2 separate regions of the Homo sapiens genome follow, and region 1 is linked to region 2. A link means that fine-mapping ties the variant in region 2 to the expression of a gene that starts in the linked region. Tissue or cell type: skeletal muscle. Region 2 holds a variant in brackets; the other region holds the start of a gene. All regions are shown on one strand. Distances are between the middles of the regions.

Evidence for each region. PIP is the estimated chance that this variant, and not a neighbour inherited with it, causes the effect.
Region 1: it holds the start of NAXD, and the variant in region 2 is fine-mapped to the expression of NAXD in skeletal muscle (GTEx, PIP above 0.99).

What each region holds. Positions count from the first base shown.
Region 1 is chr13:110,606,914-110,623,261 of GRCh38, forward strand. NAXD (NAD(P)HX dehydratase) reads left to right here and starts at 8,632. Exons shown (of 10, transcript NM_001242882.2): 1 at 8,632-8,734; 2 at 15,303-15,453. The coding sequence starts at 8,689. It overlaps NAXD-AS1 (NAXD antisense RNA 1), which reads right to left and starts at 9,440. Exons shown (of 1, transcript NR_182301.1): 1 at 6,169-9,440. RefSeq lists enhancers at 3,400-3,900, 3,901-4,401, 7,713-8,640, 9,542-9,591, 9,612-9,661 and silencers at 8,842-9,091, 9,102-9,261.
Region 2 is chr13:110,633,012-110,643,469 of GRCh38, forward strand. It overlaps NAXD (NAD(P)HX dehydratase), which reads left to right. Exons shown (of 10, transcript NM_001242882.2): 6 at 1,534-1,584; 7 at 1,661-1,765; 8 at 2,457-2,577; 9 at 4,118-4,238; 10 at 5,367-6,985. The coding sequence ends at 5,517. It overlaps CARS2 (cysteinyl-tRNA synthetase 2, mitochondrial), which reads right to left. Exons shown (of 15, transcript NM_024537.4): 14 at 9,304-9,510; 15 at 8,406-8,597. The coding sequence ends at 8,526. Among named protein-coding and RNA genes, the nearest start is that of NAXD-AS1, 22 kb to the left of the region's middle. RefSeq lists enhancers at 1-217, 1,212-2,041, 2,042-2,870, 3,701-4,529. The variant G/A (reference allele first, on the strand shown) is at 5,834.

The DNA of each region.
Region 1 (16,348 bases), 23 kb before region 2:
CTTTGGGAGGCCAAGGCAGGCGGCTGGGAGGTGGAGGTTGTAGCGAGCCGAGATCACGCCACTGCACTCCAGCCTGGGCACCACTGAGCACTGAGTGAACGAGACTCCGTCTGCAATCCCGGCACCTCGAGAGGCTGAGGCTGGCGGATCACTCGCGGTTAGGAGCTGGAGACCAGCCCGGCCAACACAGTGAAACCCCATCTCCACCAAAAAAATACGAAAACCAGTCAGGCGTGGCGGCGCGCGCCTGCAATCGCAGGCACTCGGCAGGCTGAGGCAGAAGAATCAGGCAGGGAGGTTGCAGTGAGCCGAGATGGCAGCAGTACAGTCCAGCTTCGGCTCGGCATCAGAGGGAGACTGTGGAAAGAGAGGGAGAGGGAGACCGTGGGGAGAGGGGAGAGGGGAGAGGCAACTTGGTTATAATTAAAAGGAAATTGGCTAGGCACGGTGGCTCATGCCTGTAATCCCAGCACTTTGGGAGGCTGAGGTGGGCGGATCATATGAGGTCAGGAGTTCAAGTCCAGCCTGACCAACATGGTGAAACCCCGTCTCTACTAAAAATACAAAAAATAGCCAGGCATGGTGGCTCATTCCTGTAATTCCAGTTACACAGGAGGCTGAGGCAAGAGAATCGCTTGAACCTGGGAGACGAAGGTTGCAGTGAGCCAAGATCGTGCCATTGCATTCCAGCCTAGGTGACAAAGCCAGGCTCTCTTAGAAAAAAATTTAAAAAAAAATGTTTTAATGGACTTTTTAAAAAAGGAAATCATTTATAATAGTCCTGTATGTTAAAACAAAGCTTCTTTAAAGTATTGATTTGCTCTCAATAAAATTAATTGAACTTCTGCTTTTCATAATAATTCTATAATCTGTTTCTGCCTTTTCTCTGTTGAGAAGGCCTGAGATGGTAACTCAGCCTTTTTGTCAGCTCTTGTAACTTTTTTCTTCTGGTTTCAATTTTACTGTTACGGCCTAAGGCTGAAATGTTTTATCTTGAAGGTCAAAACAGAAAACATTGTTTTCCTCCGTTCTGTACTCTAGGCTTTTTTTGATATGTCTAAATTTTCAGTGTAATCAAGAAACTTCTCATGCTGTTCCTAAGAGTCATGTATTCCCGTGGTATGCTCATAACCTTGAACACACTCTTCCTGTGTCTGATTAAATTCCAGTACTTTTTCATCAAACTTGACTTCCAGGTTATCTAAGTGGGCTTCTCATAAGGAGAAGCAGTCACTGCAGATTTTTCTTTGCTTTTTTGGTAACTGGCTTAAGAGACAAGATTTTATAATTCTCATGCTGTCTTTATTAGGTTTTTGATTGCAAAATCTGAAATGTAAAAGGGTCAAGGTTTTTACATCCGTATTACCTTCTGTATTGCCTTTAAAGTCTTTTGATTATCACTTTTGTTAAGTAAGTAACTATTATTTTACAATGACCTGTGCTTCTGTTTGGATCAGATGTTTTGAGCCTTTTAACATCTTTAATAAACGTCCTCAAAATCAAAATCCTAAATTAAGTCTCTGAGGTGTCTTATTGCTGGGGCTTATTAAATCTATAAAAATTAATTGCTGCAAGGTTGTAGAACTTTTTTTTTTTTTTGAGACGGAGTCTCGCCCTGTCACCCAGCCTGGAGTGCAATGGCGAGATCCCGGCTCATTGCAACCTCCGGCTCCCGGGTTCAAGTGATTCTCCTGCCTCAGCCTCCCGAGTAGCTGGGATTACAGACACGTGCCACCACGTTCCAGCTAATTTTTTGTATTTTTAGTAGAGACGGGGTTTCACCATGTTGGCCGGGCTGGTCTCGAACTCCTGACCTAGAGATCCGTCCGCCTCGGCCTCCCAAAGTGCTGGGATTACAGGCGCGAGCCACCTCGTCCGGCTGTGAACATTTTTACAGCTTCCAGTCAGACCATGAACTCCACTATCACCACCTCTGGCCTGATAATTACATTTACTGGAAGCAAATCAGCTGAAGAACTCCCTTAGCCCCTTGAGGGAGTCCTTATCGGGGTCTATTAACTAATTTTCGTGCTGTTAAGTTGCAGGGCCTTGACTCCTGGGTACACATGTCGCATCTGAAGAACGCACTGACTCCTACCAGAAACTGACACCAAACTCAAGATGACCAAAGCCTCATCTTTAGACCTGGGCAAAGGTGACACTCAAAGTAAACTGCTTTCATGAAACACAGGGACAGGCCTGTATTCAAATACATTAAGGTTCATTTAGGCTGGGCGCAGTGGCTCACGCCTGTAATCCCAGCACTTTGGGAGGCCGAGGTGGGTGGATCCACGAGGTCAGGAGATCGAGACCATCCTGGCTAACAAGGTGAAACCCCGTCTCTACTAAAAATACAAAAAATTAGCCGGGCGTGGTGGCGGGCGCTACTCGGGAGGCTGAGGCAGGAGAATGGCGTGAACCCGGGAGGCGGAGCTTGCAGTGAGCCGAGATCGCGCCACTGCACTCCAGCCTGGGCGACAGAGCGAGACTCCGTCTCAAAAAAAAAGGTTCATTTAATAATTTTGCCTTTATTTGAAATAATGTAATATTTATTCTATGCCTAGATACTAAATAATTTAAAGGTTTAATTTTTTTTCTATCATTTGCAAAACTAGGCAGGGCTTGTGACCTTTTTGTTTAAAATGTTTTTAGCTCCTTGCGTTTGTTGTGCCTCCAGAATTTGAACTATACAATCCCTCCAGGCCCAGCATAAGATTGTAAGGGCCAATTCTGAGGAATAAAATTAATTCAGATCCTCCAACTGAATTAATGGATTCAGTCATTAATGGTCACAGAGATGCCTCAGCAGCTTAACAAAATGCTTGTGTTTTGTATAGCTAATTGCTACAAACCAGATTATGGTGGCTCAATGCACATAATTTATAAATAAGTCAATTATGTTACCTTGTCTTTTGGCTTTTGGTTTTTGGTTCTTATGTTGCTTAAAAGAGATTCGAAGGTTAATGAGTGCCTGCGCACTTCCATTCCATTTGGCTTAGAATAATTAATTGGTTATAAGTCTTTTGACTCTAAGTCCCTTAGCCGTAGGGGTCCCACTGAGGGACATGATAGACCTGGCACAGGTAGCACCCCCCCCCCCCCCCCCCCCCCCCGGCATCAATATGGGACAAAATAAAAGCTTGGCCATTGACACTGCCTCTGGCATACCTTTACAAAAAGCGGACTATAAACTAAAAAAAATCTGCATCCTCCCTAGTAGAATGGACACGCCTCTTGCCCAAAGGGGATCCAATTAAAAAAAAAAAAAAAACCTGAAAAACTAGTTCAGGCCATGATGGAAAGCTGGGGGTCAGACACGCCTCACTCCACTTTCCCCCATGCCTTGGAATTCAGGCACAAATGACCAGGCAAAATGCCTTTGCACCCTCGAAAAGAAAAACCCTCCTGCTGATTTTATGTGGGATGCTGTTAAAGCTGCTGTACCTTCTAGTACCTGGTTTTTACCACTTTTGGGCCCGTTAAGGGTGAGCTCATCGTTAATATTTGGCCCATGCATATTCAACTTGCTTGTAAAGTGCCTGTCTCTGGTTACAGCAGATCTAGGTAAAGGTGATCTTCAAGCTAGGGTTCCAGCTGCTTCCTGTCTTGGAATCAGACGCTCCTGCTGTCCCCTGGGGACCCTTAGATCAAGCAGCTGGAGATTCCCATGCCCTCGGTAGGCAGGGCCAGTGCTCTTAAATCAGCAGGAAGATGACACGGAAGACTGACCTCCTCCCTCATCTCCCTCAAGAATAAGGGATGGAATGGCTGAGCACGGTAGGTGGCTCATGCCTGTAATCCCAGCACTTTGGGAGGCCAAGGTAGGCAGATCGCTTGAGCTCAAGAGTTTGAGACCACCCTGCACAACATGGCAAAAACCCATCTCTACCAAAAATACAAAAATTAGCCGGGCGTGGTAGCACACACCTGTGGTCCCAGATACTCAGGAAGCTGAAGTCTGAGGATCGCTGGAGCCTGGGAAGGGGAGGCTGCAGTGAGCCATGATTATGCCACTGCATCCCAGCCTGGGTAACAGAGTGAGACCCTGTCTCAAAAAAAGAAAGAAAGAAAATAAATAAAAGAAGAAGGGATGGAAATCTCCAAGGGGGAAAATGAAATGGGAATAGCACTGGGTGGTCACAGGAGGATGGAAAAACCCAAACAACAGCTAGAATAAGAACGAGGCAAAGAAACCGCAGGTTAACAGAAAACCCAAAATAAGGAAGAGAAAATGGTCAAATCCTGGTCAGGGTGATATGTCCATGATCCTGGGAAAACTTGAATAAGGGTAAAAGTCTGTGGTAATGGGGGGAGGGAGTCCCTGAAATCACTCCTTTTCCAGAATACCTTATGATTATTCCACCCCCTAATTAAAAAAAAATCCATAAAATTAGAAACTCAAACTCTGATGTGACTCACTCTGCTGAGCACGCCCGCAATTCTCTTTTACGTGTGTGCTTTCGCTTTGCAGTAAAAGCTTCTTGCCTTTCGTTTCATTCTGACGTGTCCCTGAATTCTTTCTCATGCTGGTGTCAAGAACTTGGAAACTGGCTGGGGCTGGGGTCTCAGTGGCATCCAGAGACCCTCCGGAGACCTCCGACAGCTGTAGGTGATTGGGGGCGCCAATCACATAGGGGTCGGAGAGTGATGGAATGCACCTTAATTTTAATCTGAGTGTCATGGAAAACAGTTGGATGGTTCTATGCAGAGGAGTGACATGATCTGACTTATAGGAAAGATCATTCTATTGCTGTAGGAAAGCAGGGAGGTTAATTTATTAACAGAAGGTATTATGGGTTGAGTTGTGTCTCCTCAGAATATGTTAAATCCTAACCCCTAGTACCTGTGACTATAACCGTAACTGGAAGTGAGGTCTTTATAGATTATTGAATTAAGATGAGATGAGATCATTAGGGTGGGCCCTACTCCAATATGACTGGTGTCCTTAAAGGAGAGGAAAATCCCACGTGAGGACAAGGAGACCATCATGTGATGACAGAGGCAGAGGCTGGGGAGGGTGCCAAGGGCATTTTACAGTAAACCTGAAACACTCGTTCAGGCCGAGATGGAAAGGGGGGATGGATGCCTCATTATACCCTCCTCCCTTTGGAATTCAGGCACAGTTGACCAGCATTAACGTTAAAACAGAGACCTTAAGACTGACAAAGCAGAATTTTTGTAGCAATAAGATACCAATGTGACAGATTGCAAGCCCTGAAAGAAACTGGAGTATTTTACCCCAAATATATTCATTTGGCATATTTTGAAATAGCCTTGCAAAACTGTCTCTTTGGGGAAAAACATCTACATTCTGAGGAGACTCCCCTTCCTTTTCCAGGTCTTTTTCTTGATCCAGGAGATAATTTACTAAGAGTCCGGCACCTGAAGTTTGATAAGAAACATTTACAAAGTCCAGGTGAGGTGGGCCACACCTGTAATGCCAGCACTTTGGGAGTCTAAGGCAGAGGATCACTTGAGGTCAGGAGTTGGAGACCAGCCTGGCCAACACAGTGAAACCCTGTCTTTACTAAAAATACAAAAATTGGCCGGGTGTGGTGGTGCACGCCTGTAGTTCCAGCTACTTGGGAGGCTGAGTAGGGTGGATCGCTTGAACCTGGGGGGCAGAGGTTGCAGTGGGCCAAGATTGTGCCATTGGACTCCAGCCTGGGCAACAGAGTGAGACTCTGTCTCAAACAACAACAACAACAAAAAGAAACATCTACAATTCATTCTCTTTGAAGCCTGCTACCTGGAGGCCTCATCTGCACAACCCCTTATCTTAACCCAGACACTTCCTTCTACTGATTCCAAGTCTTTAAGTAAACTTTCTACCAATTGCCAATCAGAAAATCTTTGAATCCACCTATGACTGGAAGCTCCTCTCTTGGAGTTGTCCCACCTTTCTGGGCTGAACCAACGTACTTCTTACATGTACTGATTGATGTCTTCCGTATCCCTACCATGTATAAAACCAAGCTTAGCCCGACTACCCTGGGCACATGTTCTCAGGATCTGCAGGGGCTATGTTACAAGCCATGGTCACTCATCTTTGGATCAGAATAAATCTCGAATATTTTAGAGTTTGACTCTTTTCATTGACACTCATGCAGCAGACTATTGCCATCATCCAGGCCACACACTGTTAAATGGAAAAACCTTAGACACGTGTATGTTTTAACTGAGTGTATTTGAGCAAAACAAAACAGATTCCCGAATGGGGCAGCCCTCCAAACCAGAGCAGATAAGAGAACTCCAATCAGGAACCTGATCTGACAGCACCTATAGGAAACAGAAGTGTGTGATGGAGACAGCTAATTTGATTATAACTTCATTGCTTAACTGGTTACAGAGTTTCCTGCCATGAAGTAAAGCTCAGTTACTGTAGTTAAACTCCTTACTGGTTTGGTCTGGTAGGTGTAGTTCAGGGTTTCACTCTGTTATCAGAAAGGGGTTCCAATCCAGACCTCAAGAGGGTTCTTGGACCTTGTGCAAGAAAGAATTCTGGGCGAGTCCATAAATTGAAAGCAAACTTATTAAGAAAGGGAATAAAAGAATGGCTACTCCATAGGCAGAGCAGTGGCACTGGCTGCTTGACTGAATATACTTATGAGACTTGAAGCCAGCTGGACTTCCTGGGTCGAGTGGGGACTTGGAGAACTTTTCTGTCTTACAAGAGGATTGTAAAATGCACCAATCAGCACTCTGTAGCTAGGATTGTAAAATGCACCAATGAGCGCTCTGTAGCTAGCAAGAGGATTGTAAAATGCACCAATCAGTGCTCTGTAAAACGCACCAATCAGCAGGATCCTAAAAGTAGCCAATTGCAGGAAAGATTGAAAAAAGGGCATTCCGATAGGGCAGAAACAGAACATGGGAGGGGAGAAATAAGGGAATAAAAGCTGCCCCACCCCCCCACCCCCGCCAGCCAGCAGCAGCAATCCACTTGGGTCCCCTTCCATGCTGTGGAAGCTTTGTTCTTTTGCTCTTCATAATGAATCTTTTTTTTTTTTTTTTTGAGGTGGAGTCTCGCTCTGTGGCCCAGGCTGGAGTGCAGTGGCCCGATCTCGGCTCACTGGAAGCTCTGCCTCCCAGGTTCACGCCATTCTCCTGCCTCAGCCTCCTGGGTAGCTGGGATTACAGGCGCCCGCCACCATGTCCGGCTAATTTTTTGTATTTTTAGTAGAGACAGGGTTTCACCGTGTTAGCCAAGATGGTCTCGATCTCCTGACCTTGTGATCCACCCGCCTCGGCCTCCCAAAGTGCTGGGCTTACAGGCATGAGCCACCACGCCCGGCCTCTTCATAATAAATCTTGCTGCTGCTCACTCTTTGGGTCTATGCCACCTTTAAGAGCTGTAACACTGTGAAGGTCCGCAGCTTCATTCTTGAAGTCAGTGAGACCATGAACCCACCGGCAGGAACTAACTCCACACATAGTTATAGTTATCTCTTGATTATAGGCTAAATAAGGAGGGGATTATTCATGAGTTTTCTGGGAAAGAGGTTGGCAATTGCTGGAACTGAGGGTTCCTCCCCTTTTTAGACCATATAGAGTAATTTCCTGATGTTGCCATAGCATTTGTAAACTCTCATGGCGCTGGTAGGAGTGTCCTTTAGCATGCTAATACGTTATAATCAGCAAATAATGAGCAATGAGGACACAGAGGTCACTTTTGTGGCCATCTTGGTTTTGGTAGGCTTTGGGCCAGTTTCTTTACTGTGTCATCTTATCAGTGCGGTCTTTGTGACCTGTATCTTGTGCCCACCACCTCATCCTGTGGCCAAGAATGTCTAACCCCCTGGGAATGCAGCCCAGTAGGTCTCACCCTCATTTTACCCAGTCCCTATTCAAGATGGAATCGCTCTGGTTAAAAGGCCTCTGACATGTTGAGCCATCCTTTCACCTCAGCCTCTCAAGTAGCTGGACTACAGGTGTGCCACACCATCCCCTGCTAATTTTCCAAAAAAATTTTGGTAGAGAAGGGGGTCTCCTTATGTTGTCCAGGCTGGTCTCAAACTCCTGGGCTCAAACGATCCTTCCATCTTGGCCTCCCAAAGCATTGGGATCACACGCGCGAGCCACCGCACCTGGCCCCACAAGTTTCTTTTAGCACCATGACGGTGGCTTCAAATAGGGCGGCAGTGGAGGTAAGAGGCCATCAGCCACAGGAGGAGCGTGGGTGGGAGGGCAGGAGAGGTCAGAATGCCTTCCAGGGGTTTGGGCCTCAGCGTTGGAGTGATGGAGCTGCCCTGACCTGAGACGGTGGAAAGCGAAGGGGCCTCGCAGCGAGCTGGTTTGGGGTTCAGGGCAGAGGTTGCGCCTGGAGCAGAAAGGCACCTGACTGCTATACTGGGGGCACATAGTGGGCCTCGGCACTCCACCTGCCAGCAAAATCATTTTCTATAACGCCGCAAGCCTAAAAATGGGCCGATAAACACAAACCAGACCCTGAACCAGATCGTTGTTAACTCTTCAACCTGCCTTCCAGCCGAACCTCTTAGGCCAGAGCTGGGACCAGGCCGGGTTGGGCGTCGCGCTTGTCAATCATCTAGAACCGGGTGTGATTGAGCGAGTTGGGATCCCACTGCCGACAGCCGCGCGGAGGCGGTCGGGAAACCGGAAAACGCTTCCAATGGCTGTGTTTCCGGCGACGGCGCGGGGGCAGCTGGGAATCCGGAATGCTGCCCGATGGCCCTGGGTCCTCGCTGTGGGGCAATCCGGGCTTGCAGACGAGGTAAGGTCGATTCCATTTGGCCCGGGGATGGTCACACGCGCGGGGGCCGGAACTGCCGTCGCCGGCGCGGTCGTTGTCGCATTGCTCTCGGCCGCACTCGCGCTGTACGGGCCGCCACTGGACGCAGGTACCCGACCGCTGACCGCCTCTGCTGGCTCGCGGGGGGGAAGCGCCGCCGAGGGGCAGCCCGCGCGCGGGGCCGGGGCGCCGTGTGGCCTGCGGGGCGGAGTAGGGAGAGGACGGAGGCCTCCTGGAACGGCGCGGCGACGGCTGGGCGCGGCTTGGGTGATGGGAGCCTCCGTGCGGGGTGACAGAGGGGCAGAGGGTGGCGCCGGGCCGGAGCCAGTGCGCGTCCCAGGAGCGGCGGAGCCCGCGCGGTGGCCGGGGAACGGGGGGCCGAGGGCCGAGGACGGTAGGAGGGCCCTGGGGCGCCGTGGTGCGCTGGTCGGATCCGTCTGCTCTGCTCTGTCCCCGCTCCCGGTCTGGGAAAGATGCTCGCCAACTGCGGGCTTGCTGTTTGGTCGGAGCTGGATACGGGGGCCCTCCTGGGGCCCAGGGACGCGGCGGGCGTGCAGGCGAGCTGGCCGGCTGAGCGGGCTTCGCGCACACCAGGAGCAGGGCCGTGTCTGCATCCCCAATTTGAAGTCCCAGTGCGACTGGGCAAGTACAGACCCTGCACGTCCTTGGACGAGAGGGACTGGATATTGCGACGCCTGGGCCGCAGAAAAGGACTCCACCAGCCAGGCCTCCTTCGCCCGCCCCCGGTTCGGGGTGTGTGTGTGCGTGTAGGAGGTCCCTTGGGGAGGGAGGCTCACCTGAGTCATCCCCAGAACCTGAAGTGCTGGCCAGATGTCCCCGAGGGCCCTGCCCTGGCCTTGGCTGGTCCTTGCACGCTGAGATGCCTTTTCAAATAGAACGGATAAGGTAGAAAGAATTTAAACAGGAGCTGAGCAAGTGCTTGGAGCCCCATCTCTTCATAGGGTTTTTTTGTCTTTCTGTTTGCCTTGTTGGTATTGGTGTATCTAACATATTTTATACAGGAAGTAGTTCGTGTATATCTCATTTCTCATAAGGAGAGATTGCTGTTATCCACCTTGGTATAGAAGATAAATAGAAGCTCAGAGAAAGTGACTTAGCCAGGATTCTCCAGCCAGTGAGTGGCCGAAATGGTTAAACGCACCATTTGTTGCTGTAGTCATTAGATAGATTTTACCTTGTGTGTATGTTGGGCATCGTCAGAGAGTTTGGCTTTTTGTTTTCATCAGCACACACTGAGAATGCACTGGGTGGCGCTGAGAGGGTACTCTACACTGCACCTCACTCACACCAGCAGGGAGGCTTCTTAACACTTTATTTAGAGATTTATTTGTAGCTCTTTACCTTAAATTCACACACCGTGATTAGTAGCAAGATTTTTCATTGCGCTTGGTTGAGGATTTATTATCAGACTGCCTAAACTTTTACGAAAAGCCAGGTAGAGTTGTATATTACTGAGGCTTTAGGAAATATTTCAGTTAACTTAGGGATTGTGGTTAAATGCTCTAAATTAGTTATAACTCACATTAACTTAAAGTATTTTTGTTTTTTTAAGTAGAATTTTCCAGTACTAAAAGCACTTTTAGCACAAAGCAGCAGTGATAGTCTTCCCCAGACACGCTTCCTTAAAACAAAAGCCAAACAAATTTAACCTGTTCTTCCAGACTCAGAATTGTCTGAAGAGTTACCGAATGGGATACATCTTAAGTCGCCTATTGTCAAGGCCTTTTTATCCTTCAGAACTTTGATCTTTATATGTAAATGTTTCTGTGTTAACATTTGAAATGTTAAGTTCAAATGGTGACGTCAGTAAGCCAGCTGGAACTTGCTTCACTGCCAAGTGCTGGGAAGTTTAGTTGACCTGCTTTGGCCCTTTTGCTAACAGAAGCTGTTTATCTTAGGTGAATGCTGGTGAGCAGCCTGGATTTTACTTTGTGTTAATACAATTCTATTCAAGTGAAAATGCTATACTTCTTATTTTGCCTTAAAATGGCAGCATTTTACACCTACTGTGTGCCCACAAAAATAAAAACAAAAACATGGCAGCACTTTGGTAAAATAGTGTCTTGTGGCCTGGCTTGTCCATTACTAACCACAGCATCTGCACAGGTTTCTCTCTGGGCCCCAGTTTCCTTATCTGTAAAAGAAAGATAAAGTGCTAGTGAGGAGAGTGAATCACGATGTCTTGACTTCATCGAACATGTATCAAGTGTCTTGTTCTGTGCCAGGCTGTGTTCGAGGTGATTGAGTCCCACATGGAAGCAGTCAGTGCTGCAGCTTGCGGATGGTGCCACATTCCTCGTGGGCAGGCAGTAGTAGGGTGCTGATTCTCTGCCAGTCCAGACATAAGAACTTCCTTCTTATGTCCAGGTCAGCCCCTACCATGTAGGTTGTCTGTGTGCTCGAAAGGTTTCAGAACCCCACATGTAATAATAGTTACTTTTGGTATCACTTTGAATTTTTAAAATTATGTAGCAAAAAAGTTACTATTAATTATATTATGAGTTTAACATAATTTTAAGCTAGCTTCCATTTGAGAGCCGTTGTTCTCATGTGTAAATCTTGAAATATTCAGTTTCTGGATGGCGCTTCTTGTTCTCCAGGGTTCTTAGACCCAGCCCTTACGGTAGCATCATGGCCAGGGAACTGGGAATCTCACAAAGTCTTAAGATTTCACAACGGAACAGGAGCAGGAGGAGGCGACTCCCGCTGGTGGGTTGATCAAGTTGCTGTGAAGGTGGTTTGCACATTTTGGGCTTCAAAACACTACCTTCTGTATAAGATAAAGGAATAGCTCAGAACAGGATTCCCCCCGTGTTTTCTTCCTAGCTATGATAAAGATTGCCGTGTGAATGCAGTGGGTTTTACACACTCAGAATTGATATTTTTGGCTTGTGGTAAATGGGACTTTAATGCTTAACCTGCTGTAGAAAAATCCGCCTTAGAAAGTGGCCCTTATTCGTATATTGTATTCGATGTTTGAGCCCCCTGATATCTTATCATTTTAACAAAGCTTACCTTGAAGTGCAGGAAAAATTGTATGTGTTCTTGTCATTATTTGAATAACAACAAAAATCAGTATTAGCTTTAAAGCCTGTAGGTTTTAAGCGTATCCTTGCCTGGACTAGCATATCTCCTCTTTCTCAACCAAAAAGATCAGAAAGGTGCTATCCCAGTACCAAAAGTACTGGGAGGACTTTCAGCAGAGTGTGACGCAGAAGGGAAGCTTTTCCGCTCTGGGGAGCAGATGCGGAGAGGACAAGCACTTGGAACACAGCATCCCTGGGAGCTCTGGTGCTGCAGTTGTGACCCCGAGGCGGCCCTGCTGTGCCCTCCTGGGAGTGCTGGGCGACACTGGTTGCAGAGGGGCATTGGTGCTCCCCTCCACCTGACAGGTGCTCCACCTGGACTCGTGGCTGCAGCTTAATTTTGTGTCAGATCCTTTCCGGTAATGTATAGGTTATTTCAACTATGAGGCAAAGTGCAAATGGGTAGTTCAGTGTGGGTTTATGGTATTTGCCCTTTTTGATATAAACATTAAATATTTCATACCTCACCTATAGTACTTTTTTTAAGACTTAAATCTGAAATTTAAGATACAGATGTTTGTAAGATATGAATCTTGGATATTGGGAGAAAGAAGCCTCCTGGAAAATATACAGTATTATCTGGTGGAACCATTTTATTCCTTTTCTTATTGTGAGAAATACACATTTATGAAGTATTACCATTTAGGAGTTGTTTTCATCAGGCAGGGTACATTGATATAAATGTTGATTTTTAACATCCGTAAGTTGAAGTCTGACTAAATTGTTTTTCTCTGTGATTTCATAAGTCACAATTTATATTTTATATGACCTTAAATATTTAATTTGAAGTACTGGTATATTTAAAGGTGCTAAAACTACACGCATGCATCTCTACTAGTGGTTCTTAACCCAGGCTCATTTTGCCCCATCCAGAAGACATTTGGGAGTGTTGAGATATTGCTGGTTGTCACCACTGGGTGCGTGTACATGCACTGCTGACTGGGTAGAAGCCGGGGATGCTGCTCAGCATCCTTCAGTGCATAGAACAGCTCCCCACGACAAAGACAGGATGCTGATCGATACCCATAAATGTCTTTTTTTTTGAGACAAGAGTCTCGCTGTGTCACCCAGGCTGGAGTGCAGTGGCATAATCTTGGCTCACTGCAGCCTCCACCTTCTGGGTTCAAACAGTTCTTCTGCCTCAGCCTCCCGAGTAGCTGGAATTACAGGCATGCACCACCGTGCCCAACTAATTTTTGTATTTTTAGTAGAGATGGGGTTTCACTATGTTGGCCAGGCTGGTCTCGAACTCCTGACCTCAAGTGATCCACCCACCTTGGCCTCCCAAAGTGCTGAGATTACAGCGGGGAGCCACTGCGCCTGGCCCCATAAATGTCTCTTCTAGACAAGTGTATTGTTTTAAAACCATAATTTAGCCCTCCTGGAGGGATTTCAAGGATGGGTGCATTGGTCCCCTGCAGGTAGCTCAGCAAGCTTCATTGTGTCTCTCCTTGGCCCACAGTTTATAGTGATTCTGTGCCGGGTCTTGTGTGTTGGTCTGGAAGAAGGTGAAAAGATTTGGGGTTGGGCTGAGCGCGGTGGCTCACACCTGTAATCCTAGCACTTTGGGAGGCCGAGGTGGGCAGATCACAAGGTCAGGAGATCGAGACCACCCTGGCCAACATGGTGAAACCCCGTCTCTGCTAAAAATACAAAAATTAGCTGGGCGTGGTGGCATGCGCCTGTAGTCCCAGCTACTCAGGAGGCTGACGCAGGAGAATTGCTTGGACCAGGGGGTCGTAGGTTGCAGTGAGCCGAGATTGTACCACTGCACTCCAGCCTGGCGACAGAGTGAGACTCTGTCTCAAAAAAAAAAAAAAAAAAGAATTTGGGTTGATGGGGATTCATAGGATCTTTTTATCTTGGGGAATCCCAGCATCTGCTCTATCAGCTAAGGCAGTTACATCTACTCATAAAGAAAATTCCTTCAAAAGTTTTGTTGAGTAAAAAGTAAAACTGTAAGAGTTAAAAGACAAAGCTCTTTTGCTGTGAAACGCTCAGTGAGCTTTGGACTGCAGTCAGTGGAACTTGTGACACTGGTTTTTCTCTGCTGCTGAGATAATTGGAAGGATAAAAATATTGAGTGCCTTGTTTGAAAAAATACTGTTTATATTTGCAAAGATCCTTTCATTCTAGGGAGAATGTATGCTTTATTCATTGAGCTCTATAGAACATACCAGCATTTCTCTCATAGCCGAGCTGTTTTAAATATTAAGGTAAAATATATAACACAGGAAGCTCTTCAAGAAAGGCCAATTGAAGTGTAGCTGTTTAGAGACAACTCAAGATGATGAAAATACATTAAATGCCACTTTGAACCCAATTTAAGAGGTGTGCCATATTTAGAATGCCATTTCTAGGTTATTTAATTAATACCCAGTTGAGTGTTGGAATACAGTTGGGAGTAATATGATGAATCTGTCAGACTTCTGAGCACCCCAGCGGATTACAGGTGGGAGCTTGCTTTCCAGTTTGTGAGGAGAGAAAAGACCTAATAATCCTAAAGGGAAATTGAAATGAAGTGATAGTTTATTAAGTAATAATGCATTTTTTTACTTGATAAAACTTTCTGGAAAATTAAATGGTCTTCCAAAATTTCAGATACATTTCAAAAATAAACCTGATAGAAATAGCATATGTTGTCCTGGTGGGGTGGCTCATGCCTGTAATCCCAGCACTTTGGGAGGCTGAGGCGGGCAGATCACTTGAGGTAAGGAGTTGGAGACCAGCCTGGCCAACATGGTGAAACCCTGTCTCTACTAAGAATACAAAAATTAGCAGGGCAGGGTGGCAGGTGCCTGTAATCCCAGATACTCCGGAGGCTGAGGCAGGAGAATCGCTTGAACCCAGGAGGTGGAGGTTGCAGTGAGCAGGATCGTGCCACTGCACTCCAGCTTGGGTGACAGAGCTAGACTCTGTCTCAAATAAATAAATAAATAGCATGTGTTACTATATGTGTTAATTACATGTGTTCAGGCTGGGCATGGTGGTTCACGCCTGTAATCCCAGCACTTTGAGAGGCTGCAGCTGGCAGATCACTTGAGGTCAGGAGTTCTAGACCAGCATGGCCAACATGATGAAACCCTATCTCTACTGAAAATACAAAAATTAGCCAGGTGTGGTAGTAGACACCTATAATCCCAGCTGCTCAGGAGGCTGAGGCAGGAGAATTGCTTGAACCTGGGAGGCAGAGGTTGCAGTGAGCTGAGATCACGCCACTGCACTCCAGCCTGGGTGACAGAGTCAGAGTTCGTCTCAAAAAAGAAAAAAAAAATTGCATGTGTTAATGTAATTTTGAACATCATATTTGCTTACAGAAATCCATTGGGTAAAAATCTATAGCATTCGTAATAACTTTGGAGAGGGTTTTGGTTAATGGGCTATTATGTGTACTAACAATATCTGTTTACCTTTCTGAATTATTCATTTTTCTTGTCTTTCAGTTTTAGAAAGAGCGTTTTCGCTACGTAAAGCACATTCGATAAAGGATATGGAAAATACTTTGCAGCTGGTGAGAAATATCATACCTCCTCTGTCTTCCACAAAGCACAAAGGGCAAGATGGAAGAATAGGCGTAGTTGGAGGCTGTCAGGAGTAAGTAGCTGATGTGCAGTGTTGGTGTTTAAAAAGTCAGTTGCTGGCTGGCTGCTTACCTGACTGTCATTCACGCTGTCTAGTTTGACCTCAGTAATCATTTCCAAATGCAGCCTGATAGGACACTCAGTATTTTTCAGTGATCCACTTTTTGATTAACTAGGAAATAACTCTGAGGAGCCCTGACTGAATTACTCCCTCATGTGTGTCAGTGTTAAGTTTTGTCGTAGTGGGGAAATGAGCCTGTTTTTTCCACTTTCTGCTTTTCTGTATTTAACTGGACTTCATACCACAAGCATGTTTTTTGTATTTAGGATAGAAACACTCAGCAACCTCTTGGTTTACTTTGTCAATTTAAAGATGTTACTGAAAGTCATTTATGAAATTTGACAAATCCCTAGCTTGCTTCTGTTCTGTTTTGCTGCTGTGTTTGGTACGTAGCTGTTTGTAAGTTGTCCTTGGGTGTGAAGGATACCTTCTGCCTCTGACGGAAAGCCTGCCGTGGCTCCTCTGTTTCTGCTTGCTTTCTGTTTGCATGGATGTGGTATCTCTCTTTGCCCATCCCTCCATTTGCAGCTGTTGATCGTGCCATAGGGTGTGTTAGAGTTGTTACTGGATCAGGTATGTGTGCATTTTACATGCTGGTGACGCTGCCGAATTGTCCCCCCATTGCGTTAGTGTGTGTTGCCTCCCAAGAGCACCTGTTCCCTGCAGCCCTTGGAGGACAACCTTTGCTAGTGAAGTCGACAAGCTTTCTTGTTGTTTTAATGCATTTCTCTTATTAGTGAGGCTTGTTTTCACATGATGGAAGAGTGTGTGCATGTATGTTGCCTGTTCTGTACTGTCTTTTGCATTTACAACGCTATTGACACCGCTTTGCAGGAGAAGGCCATGT
Region 2 (10,458 bases):
TCCTGCGCCGTGCGTTCGCATTCCTCAGCCCTTGGGTGGTCGATGGGACTGGGTGCCGTGGAGCAGGGGGTGGTGCTCGTCGGGGAGGCTCGGGCCGCACAGGAGCCCATGGAGGGGGTGGGAGGCTCAGGCATGGCGGGCTGCAGGTCCCGAGCCCTGCCCGGCGGGAAGGCAGCTAAGGCCCGGTGAGAAATTGAGCACAGTGCCGGTGGGCTGGCACTGCTGCAGGACCCAGTACACCCTCTGCAGCCGCTGGCCCGGGTGCTAAGTCCCTCATTGCCCCGGGCCAGCAGGGCTGGCCGGCTGCTCCGAGTGCGGGGCCCGCCAAGCCCACGCCCACCCGGAACTCCAGCTGGCCCGCAAGCGCTGCAGGCAGCCCCAGTTCCCGCTCGCGCCTCTCCCTCCACACCTCCCTGCAAGCTGAGGGAGTGGGCTCCAGCCTTGGCCAGCCCAGAAAGGGGCTCCCACAGTGCAGTGGTGGGCTGAAGGGCTCCTCAAATGCCGCCAAAGTGGGAGCCCAGGCAGAGGAGGTGCTGAGAGCAAGCGAGGGCTCTGAGGACTGCCAGCATGCTGTCACCTCTCATTTTGTTTAATGTTTTCTATTTTAATGTTTTGTATTATCAGGTGTCTGTCAAGTCAGGATCACTTTACATGCTACTGCAGTGTATAATCTTGTCACAATGTATTGGCTCATAATAATAAAAACCACCAAATATTACATATATGTGTGTGTATCTATACATGTAGTTTTTTTTTTTTAATAGAAAACCTTTGAAACCTTCACTGTAATCCTATCAGGGAAAAATGATTCCCTGTTTATTATTGTTGTTATTTTAAAACGTGTAAGTAAAGTGATATGAAAAATACATAATGACTAATGATTTGGGGAATTCTCAGGAATTCAGATTTCCTGCCTCCGAATGCTGCGTATTAGTATCTGTTGGAGAACTGGATGCCCTTGCTGGGGCGGGGGCTGTCTTCATGGGTTAGCCTAGGAGCCCAGCTGTTGTTCATAGCGTTTCCAGTGGGCTTCGCCTTTCAGAGTTCCCAGTGTCCTGCCTTGTTTACGGGCTCTGCGAGTTCATTGGGTCTTTCTGCTTCTCTATTTTATTCATTTACTTGATTATTTTCCATTTATTGTTTGATGGCCTGATGTTGCATTTTATTAAGAGTCTGCTCAATTTTCTGTCACTCTTGGGAAAAGTGTCTTAGTCGGTTTTGCGCTGCTGTAGCCGTACCACAGACTGGGTAATTGATAATGAACAGGCGTTTACTGGCTCACAGTTCTGAAGGTGGATGTCCAACATCAAGGTGCCGGCATCTGGCGAGGGCAGAAGGGCAGGAGAGAGACCCTTATGCCTCTTTTAAAGGTCATTAAACCAACCCATGAGGACACTGCCACATCACCTTTTAAAGGCCCCACCTCCCAGGACCCTTCCCTTGGCAATTAAGTTTCACCATGAGTTTTGAGAAGACACATACCCACACCATAGCAGCAGGCATGGTGCTCAGTCTGGTTTTCTCTTCTGGCAGGGCATTTTGGAAGTGTCAAAGGCCAGGGACATCCCTGTTGTCATCGACGCGGTGAGTTGACTTCTCTCCTCCTGGCTCGGACTCCCGGAAGGCCTGTGCAGTGAGCACGGCTCCTTGTTCTGTGCAGGATGGCCTGTGGCTGGTCGCTCAGCAGCCGGCCCTCATCCATGGCTACCGGAAGGCTGTGCTCACTCCCAACCACGTGGAGTTCAGCAGACTGTATGACGCTGTGGTGAGTCAGTGGACCCCCTGGAGGGTAGATGCAAGCCCTGTTCGTCCTGAAGAGGGTGAAGGACGAGCTCCATGCTTCTGCCCAGCCTGTCCCTGTGGACACACCTGCAAGTAATCGCTGTGCCTCTCCCAGCGGATGGCGCGTCTTCCCATTAATGCGCTTGGATTGGATGAACGATGGTGTAGTGGGCTTGGGACAGGCAGGGACTCGGGTCAGTCAGCCCCTCCTGCAGTGCACTCTGGACAGGTCACTTTGTCTGTGTCCTGAGTGCCTCATCTGTAATGTGATGATGGCATCAGCTTCACGGGGTTGTGAGGATGAGATGAGGAAACCTATGTAAAGCCGTGAGTCCCCACATGGTAAGTGTCCCATCAATGTTAGTGCCCAGTACGACTGGAATTTGTATTACTCCTGCAAAGCTCTCAGAACCCAGTCTTGGGTGGTCCTCCTTCAGCCTGCTCTGATGAGGTAGAGGATGGGCACTGGAGCAGGCACCGTGTCAGCACCTGCTCGGAGGACTCACTGCAGGTGATATCCTGGGCATCCTCCCACCTACATGGCCTTTAACAGGTGCCTGGGTGATCCCTTTAGACACGAGAGCATGAGTCTCATGGCGGATGGGACAGGGCTATCTGTCGTCGTGTGTCTGAGGAAGACTTTGCTTTTTCTCTGTCTTCCTGTGTTGTCATAGCTCAGAGGCCCTATGGACAGCGATGACAGCCATGGATCTGTGCTAAGACTCAGCCAAGCCCTGGGCAACGTGACGGTGGTCCAGAAAGGAGAGCGCGACATCCTCTCCAACGGCCAGCAGGGTGAGTGGCGGCTGCCCTCTGTGCATGGGCCAGTGCCAGGTCAGTCAGCATGGCCACACCGAGCATGAGCCCTGGAAGACCTCTCCCGTGCACACCCGTGTTCACACACATTCACACAGGGATTCCTGATGAGCTCGTCAACCACACTTTCTTCAGAGTCCATGTTTTGACTTTTCACTGTTTTGCCAGGGGAGGTGACAGTGGTGAGGGCAGGCTTTCGAGCCGTGGGCCTTACCCGTTGGTTGAATTCCCTTGCCTCAGTTATGAGAAGCAGTCTGGCGGGAGGGTGCCTGCAACAGCAGGGCACAGTGCAGGGTCCCGCGTCTCCAGCTGCCACCTTCATCTCACCTGTGGCATCCACCATCCATGCAGTTATTTGGGTATTTTATTGCATTTCATTCTCTTTTATCAAAATGACTGGAAAGTGCAGAAAGCCCCGAAGCTGATGCTGGTAGTGGAATCTCAGGCACTGAGTGTGGCGAGTCTCAACTGGCCACTCCCACGGAGCCTGGGGAGGCTTCAGCAAGAGCCAAGTGAGAGCAGGGCAGAGGCCGGGCCCAGCGCCAGCGAGGCATCTGGGGAGCCGTGCCCTTGTTAGCGCTGAAAATGGAAGCCCCTCCATTCAGGCCTGGACAGATGATGGGCAGCGAATGTGCTCACCTGCTGAGCTGTGGGGCTGGACTAGGTACCAAAATCAGGGTAGAACACTGAGGCGTCTGTGGGCGGGTGTGTGCACATCCACACTTGTACACTCACATTCACATGCACATATGTGCACACGCATGCAATTCATACACATGCACAGTTGTGCTCACAGCCTCGCACGCCCTTGCACACTCGCACTTATACACATGCATGGTCATGCTCACAGCCTCGCACACGCCCTCGCACACTCATCCACACACAGCTGTGCACAAGGAACACAGAGCAGATGTTCTCAGAGGGACTCTGACACCTTTGAGATGAGGGTTTTTTAATCACTGGAAGGCTCTCTTGGGTCTAACAGGTTCAGAGAATGTAACACCTGGTTTTCAAAACATTTTTCAAAGAAATAGAGAATTCCCATACACAGGCATACGTGACGTTATGAGGCCGGTGGAGGCCTCGCTCGGTGTTGCCCTGTATGGTTGAGCTGTGGTTTAAGGTGAACTCTGGAGTGTGGGCTGCAGGTGAGGGCTCCGTCCCTGGGAGCTGGTGGGAGGAGCTGGAGGCTGGCGCCGCCCTGCTCAGAGCTGCCTGCTTGGGCTCGTCTGAGGCGGTTCCGAGCTGCAGGTGTCTCCACCAACCTGCTGTGCTACACAGCGGGGTCTGGGGCAGCCTCACCACTGCGTGTCTTGGTTTCCTCTTCTGTAAAACAGAGGCTGCCTCCAACCCTTGGAACAAACAGGGAAGAGCCGTAGCAGGCAGGATGTGAGTGGAGCCTCAGGCTGCTCCTGGAGGGTGTGGCTCTGCCTGCCGTGCGGCCTTCCACACCCGTGGCTACTGTCACATTCACACACATGGCCATGCTGACACCTGCTCTCACTTCTGCCCTGTGCAGTGCTTGTGTGCAGCCAGGAAGGCAGCAGCCGCAGGTGTGGAGGGCAAGGGGACCTCCTGTCGGGCTCCCTGGGCGTCCTGGTACACTGGGCGCTCCTTGCTGGACCACAGAAAACAAATGGGTAAGGCCACGTCTTCATTTATTCTACTTTGAAACCGTCTGATTTTTCTAAGCTGTTTCAGTAGCTCATGCGTTGAATAAGTAGCCCTGGAAACACTGACAATGAACTCTAGGCTTCACTGGAGAGATCTCGGCACAGACGAACCCTCTTGGCAGAAGCTTCCACCCCACACTTGGGCCTGGGCCTGTCCATCATTCACTGTGGATGGGGCCTGGGGCAGGGGTGGTCTTCAGAGCTCTCCAGAGAGTTCCGAGGTGCAACCAAGGCCCAGCAGCACGCTGTTCTGGGAAGTTGAGTGGTTTATTCTGTGTAACACAGAATACTAAGATAGAAAACAGACAGGGTCAAGGCTTACTTAGACACTTGTTCTTAAAGATGTGAATTTTCTTTAAGAGACAGCAGAATTCTAGGACCAGGGCCCTTGGCCCAGTTCTGTAGTCAGAGAACTTTATGAATGCAAGCAGTTCCCATACCTCTAAGCATCTCCATTTCTCTTCTGTGAGCCCATCAAGGTGGTGGCTGCAGGTGCTAGGTGTGGCAGACCCGGGCTTCTGGAGGGTGGGCAGGGCTGTCATCCAGTGGCCTCATGTGTCCTCATTGCCGGGATGGCAGAGTCTGGGACCATCCCCCAAACTAGGTGTGTCCACATGAATTTGAGAGCCGAGGAGGTAGGGGTGTGGGCAGGAGTCTTACTGTTCATTCTGCTGTGTTCACTCGAGTTGCCTCCACCCCTCCCCCAGGAGATGGAGCCCTGGTAGCAGGAATCCCCATTCTCAGACCTCAGATGCCCTCTGCACCTGGGCACTGAGAGCACAGTCAAACAGGGCTAAGCAGCTTGTGCCGCCTGGCTTTCCCCGGGAACACCTGGCCCACTGTGTGCCCTAGCCCTGGACCTGTCTCCGAGTACATAGACGTTTCCTGTGTGCCTCCTGCCAGGGAGTAGTGGAGGGTTAATGGTGGTTTTCGCTGTGATAAACCTGCTTTCTCCTCAGGGGCATATCAGACTTGAAATTGACAATTTGGGGTCCTGAGATTGAAACAGGAGTCAAAACCAGAGCCCAGGGTAGCTGCGGCCCCCGGACCACGACGCCCACTTCCCCACACCTCCTGCTGTCCCCCTCTCCGCAGGTCCAGCCCTCTCCTGGTGGCCGCGTTTGGCGCCTGCTCTCTCACCAGGCAGTGCAACCACCAAGCCTTCCAGAAGCACGGTCGCTCCACCACCACCTCCGACATGATCGCCGAGGTGGGGGCCGCCTTCAGCAAGCTCTTTGAAACCTGAGCCCGCGCAGACCAGAAGTAAACAGGCACCTTGGACGGGGGAGAGCGTGTGTGTGATGGGAAAATCCGGACCCACGCGTGTGCTGAAGGCGTACGGTGCTTGCCAGATTTTCAACTTGAGCATAAATTGGTTGCCATTGAGAATTTAAGAATCTGGAATATTGCAGCTTTTGGTTAAACTTAATGCATGGTTGGAGATGTTATGGCGACACTAAACAAAGTATTCCTGAACTTTCCTTAGCTCCTTGGTAGTAACTGGGAAGACAGAAATGAAGAAAATCACATGAGAATGAAGAATTCTTTAGCAGCTCAACAGA[G/A]TTTCTCGGCCTGCTCCCAGATCGGCGAAGTTTCTACTTGTTACTCTCTCTGCCGGCGCCCTTCGTTCCTCCTCTGCTTCCCTTCCCTAGTCTTTCCTCCGGCAGGGAGCTGGGCAGGGGTCCCCGGGTGTCTCCCTGAGTCCCGACTGCACTGACTGGGTCCATCAGAGGGCTGCTTCGTTCTCCAGCTCATCTTCTTTTAAAGTGGTGACTAGCTTGGTGGTATCTGGCTGCTGGTGTTTGGCTTATTGACATACTCCAGGGTAATCAATGATGACTTTGTTTGGAAACCCTTTTGGAGGCACCATGGGAACAGAAGGAAACATGAGTGACGCTGACCCTTGAGTGTGTGGGTGGGGAGCTCTGAGACGCCTCCTGTCCCACGCTCTCCGGTGTCCGTGTCTACACAGGGGTCCCCATGATACCCACCGGCCCCAGCAGGGCAGACCGGACCGGGGACGGGCACGGTGAAGGGCTGCAGCCTGGGGTCTGACGTGGCCCCTAGTGCTGTCTCAGGAGAAGGCTCTGGAGGACTTGAGGCATGCTGGGCCTGGTGCAGTGATGGCGCTAAGGAGACCCGGGGAAAGACAGTATCGTGGTCACGTATGCTTAGGAAGCAGCACAGCCGTGTCCTTAGGGATGTTCGCGTCCAGTAAAGACACTGGTAACTGCGGTTTCAGCCAACACTCTTCATGGCAGTGTCGACCTCGGGTTAGCTTCTGTTGTCTTTGTGGATGGTTTTCCTGGAGCGGCCTGACGTTGACGTGTTCTCTGGTCCCATGTCTTAGCGGGGCATGGTACGGTTTCGTGCCTGACGCGTGCATTAGGGTGTTCTCTTATACTTTCAGTAGCATCTTTCCACAGCAAGGGCCAAACCCTCCTGGTTCCCTTCAGAGTCTTTTTGGCCTGATGATGACTCTTGAGTGATACCCTGTGATGCAGACATGCCCCAGATGGATTCTACTTTCTTTAAAACTAGGGACTTTCAAGATTAAAAAAAAGATTGTCACTACTAATTTGACGCCTAACTTCAGAAGCTTCACTGTCTACATGTGAACTTTTCCAGAAAAACTGTGCCATGGACATTTTTCCTCTGGGGAATTAACATCTAAATTCTGGTAACTATTAAAAGACAGATCTGGTTAATTTAAATTGAGTATTGTATTTTTTTCCTTAAACAGCTAAAGCTCACCTTTCAACTTTCTTAGGTGAGGACATTGTGTGAGATGCCAGGGAGATAAGAATATCTAAGCCTGTCTGTGTGAGATTGGCCTCCTCGCCAGCGCCTCTCCCGTGGTGGCTGCAATAAAGCACCTTGAAGGATAAGCCCAAGGCAGCCCCTTCTTTCCTTAGGAAATAGAATTCAGCAGTCACAGGAACTATTCGTCTGGTTTTTGTTCTAAGTAAAACATCCCTTTGCTTAAAGGAGAGAATGGGTTTTTTTACAAGCAGCTCATTGCTTCCATGTTCTTTCTCAAACCCACGTATTTCACGCACTCGCTCCAGCCGGACACGCTCCCAGGAGCTTCCCTGGACCAGGAGAGCAACGGGAAAGTGTGGGGGGGTGGGCGGCCCGTAATGCCCCAGTACTGAGCAGCCCTGTCGAGATGCCTCATTGTAAGGAGCCCTCTGGGGACTTTTTCTATGTGGGTAGCTTTACTAGGGTGATTTTCTAGGTGAGTGACTTCTGAACTGTAGACAGGAGACCTGTACCTCAGGGTCACGGTTAAATGATGAGCAAGCCCGTATCCCCAGTCACGGGTCCCGCTGCTGCCTGTGCCCTTGGGATTCAGAGATGCCAGTGTGACAGGGAGAGGCCTGGCCCAGGGTCTGCGAGCAGGAAGAGTGGAGAGGGGTCACCCTGCTGAGTCACTGACAGCTGTGGCGCTGGGCTTACCACAGAAGGGTGAGATCAGGAGCAAGGTGGGTGCTTCAGGAGGCCACCGGTCCTGTAGCCCAGGCAGCCTGCCGTGTGCTGGCCGCCACCTCCCGCTCAGGAATCCTGTCTGTCACAGCTCGCCAGCTGGCTTTCAGCCTGGCTGCCCTGACTCCTCCGGAACCAACCTTTCCCAGGCCCAGCTCGACCCCATCACTGCTCTGCACAGACCATGACCACCAAGATGGCCTGCAGCTGCCAGGATGTTAACTGCAGCGGGACTGCAGACGGGTTCTCAGCTGCATTTTTCCTATGCTGAATACGTTACTTTTGTAACCAGAGAGAAAACGTAAGATTGTGTTCTTGCTGGGGGAGGTGTCCCGGGGTTAGCATTGCTGGCGTCCCACCTCTGCTTCAGACTATGCTGCGTGGCCCACCCACCTCACCCATCCCCAGCCCCTCCCTCAGGAGGAAACAGGCTGCATTCTGCCGCCTCCCGGGGTCCCTGCTCTTCTGTTGGCTGTGTTGTCTGTTCCCTGGGCACAGGGCCAGCAGGTCTCACGCACAGGCACGTGTGCTGCTGGATGCTACTGAATGTCTGACACTACTTCACTCAATCGACGGTGAGTCTGTAGCCACAGAACGCAGTGAGTGTTTAGGCTCAGTTACTAACAAACAGACGCCAGTGGGACACTGTTGGTTGCCTTACTTTAATGCTGACCTAGCAGCCCCGACAGGAAGCTTTAACATAAAGCCTTGACCCTGAGAAGCATGGGTGCGTCTTGTCGTGAGCAGGTTCATGGCTGTGCTCCATCCTCAGCCCGCTGATTTTTGGTCTTTTGTCCTTTGATCCAGCAGTTCCCACGTGGATGTTGTACTGCTTCTGTCCTGGAGAAGAAGAGTGAGGTCCAACTCTGAGCAGACACCACGTCATGTGGCACAGGGGGCTGACAGGCGTAATCAGGTTCAGGGTGCCTGTTCCCTCACCGGCCTGTCCTAAAAAGCTTGCCAGGCGCTTAGAAAGGGCCCCACTACCTCCAGCAGAAGGCCAGGAGCTTCAAGGCACCTGCAGGAGGTGGCGGGGGCTGAGCAGGACCCACGTCCCCGTGCTCAGCGTCCCCTGCAGCCAACTTGGCCCCTCCCTCACGGCCCTCCCACCTCATTTTTTATGGGGGTGGGTTTCTCTACTCAGAAGCATGGGCAGGGCGCAGTGGCTCACGCCTGTAATCCTGGCACTTTGGGAGGCTGAGGTGGGAGGATCACCTGAGGTCGGGAGTTTGAGACCAGCCTGACCCACGTGGAGAAAACCTGTCTCTACTAAAAATAAAAAATCAGCCGAGCATGGGAGTGCATGCCTGTAATCCTAGCTACTCAGGAGGCTGAGGCAGGAGAATCGCTTGAACCTGGGAGGCAGAGGCAGAGGTTGTGGTGAGCCGAGATCACGCCATTGCACTCCAGCCTGGGTGACAAGAGTGAAACTCCGTCTCAAAAAAAAAGCATGGTCACGGGGGATGTCTGGGCCTCTGATGGCCCCACGTCCTGTTGACCTACCCGGCTCCTGGGGTGATGTCCCTGACCTTGGTGCGGCACTCACCTTGATGTTGATGCCGTGGGCAGTCAGGCCCCGGCGCAGGGTGTCGCATGCTTCCAGCAGGGGCTGCCTTTCTAGGAGCTGCTGCCGCCGGGCGTCCCCCGTGGCCTCGGGCATGGCCAGCGCAAACTGCCGGACCTTCTGCCGGAACCGCACCAGCTCGTCCACCACACCATGCAAGGTAGCCTCGCTGCCGTCTCCTGAAACGTACTGAAGCCAGCAGGGCGCGGTTACGTCCCCCGGAGACTGTGGATTGTGGATGCCCCCTCCCCACCCCGTGGTTGGGCTCTGGGCCGACACCCACCCAGCCCTGGGCTTCCCTGATTCCCTGCAGCTGGGCCTCTTTCTGGGTCTGGCAGGGATGGGTACAGCCCGCGAGCGCTGGGCTCTGGGCAAGGCTCCACTCAACTCTGAGCATCTGTCGTCCAAGCAAGGCTGAGTGATCCTCACTCGGGAGTTGGAAGAAAGGGCTGGGGGCTGCATGCCGCCCCGCCCTGAACACAAACGCTCCCTGGCTTCCAGACCTCACGCAATTGTGGCCGAGGTATCAGGAGCAACCTGAGGATGAGGCTGGGGGGCAGCGACTGAGCGCTTGCACACGTGTGTTTCGGCAAATGGTCTGAGATTCACAGCCTCAGGTGCTGAGGACGGGATTTGCGCAGAAGGCCTCGCGCTGTCCTCCCACTGAGAACAGATCCTGGGGCGGTGTGGAAGGGGCAGCTGTACCTATTTGTTAAATCCATGTGTGTAAAATAAGAAACAGACACAACATTTGACCTTGGTGTCAAACTACTTAAACCTCACACACCCCTCAGTTATTGCTTCCATGATAAAAGACAGTTTTTGTTATTACAGAAATATGAGCCCAGAGTGGGCCCAGACATTGGGCCTTGCGGCCAGAGGAAGGTGAATGAGATATCTTTGACAAGGGCTAGGCAGAGCTTGGCCAGATCCCACTTTTCTTACTCAAAACAGACTCCGGAAAGCCACCCCTAAAAATGAACATGTACATTGCAAAAACTTGGGTCATCTCACACCAGTCGACTTTTATGTGATTGGCAACAGACGCCGGACTGCTGGAAAGGGGAACTAAGTCTACCAGGTGATCAACAGGTATACAAATGAGCCAAACTTGGAAAAGACACTATAGTTCTCTGT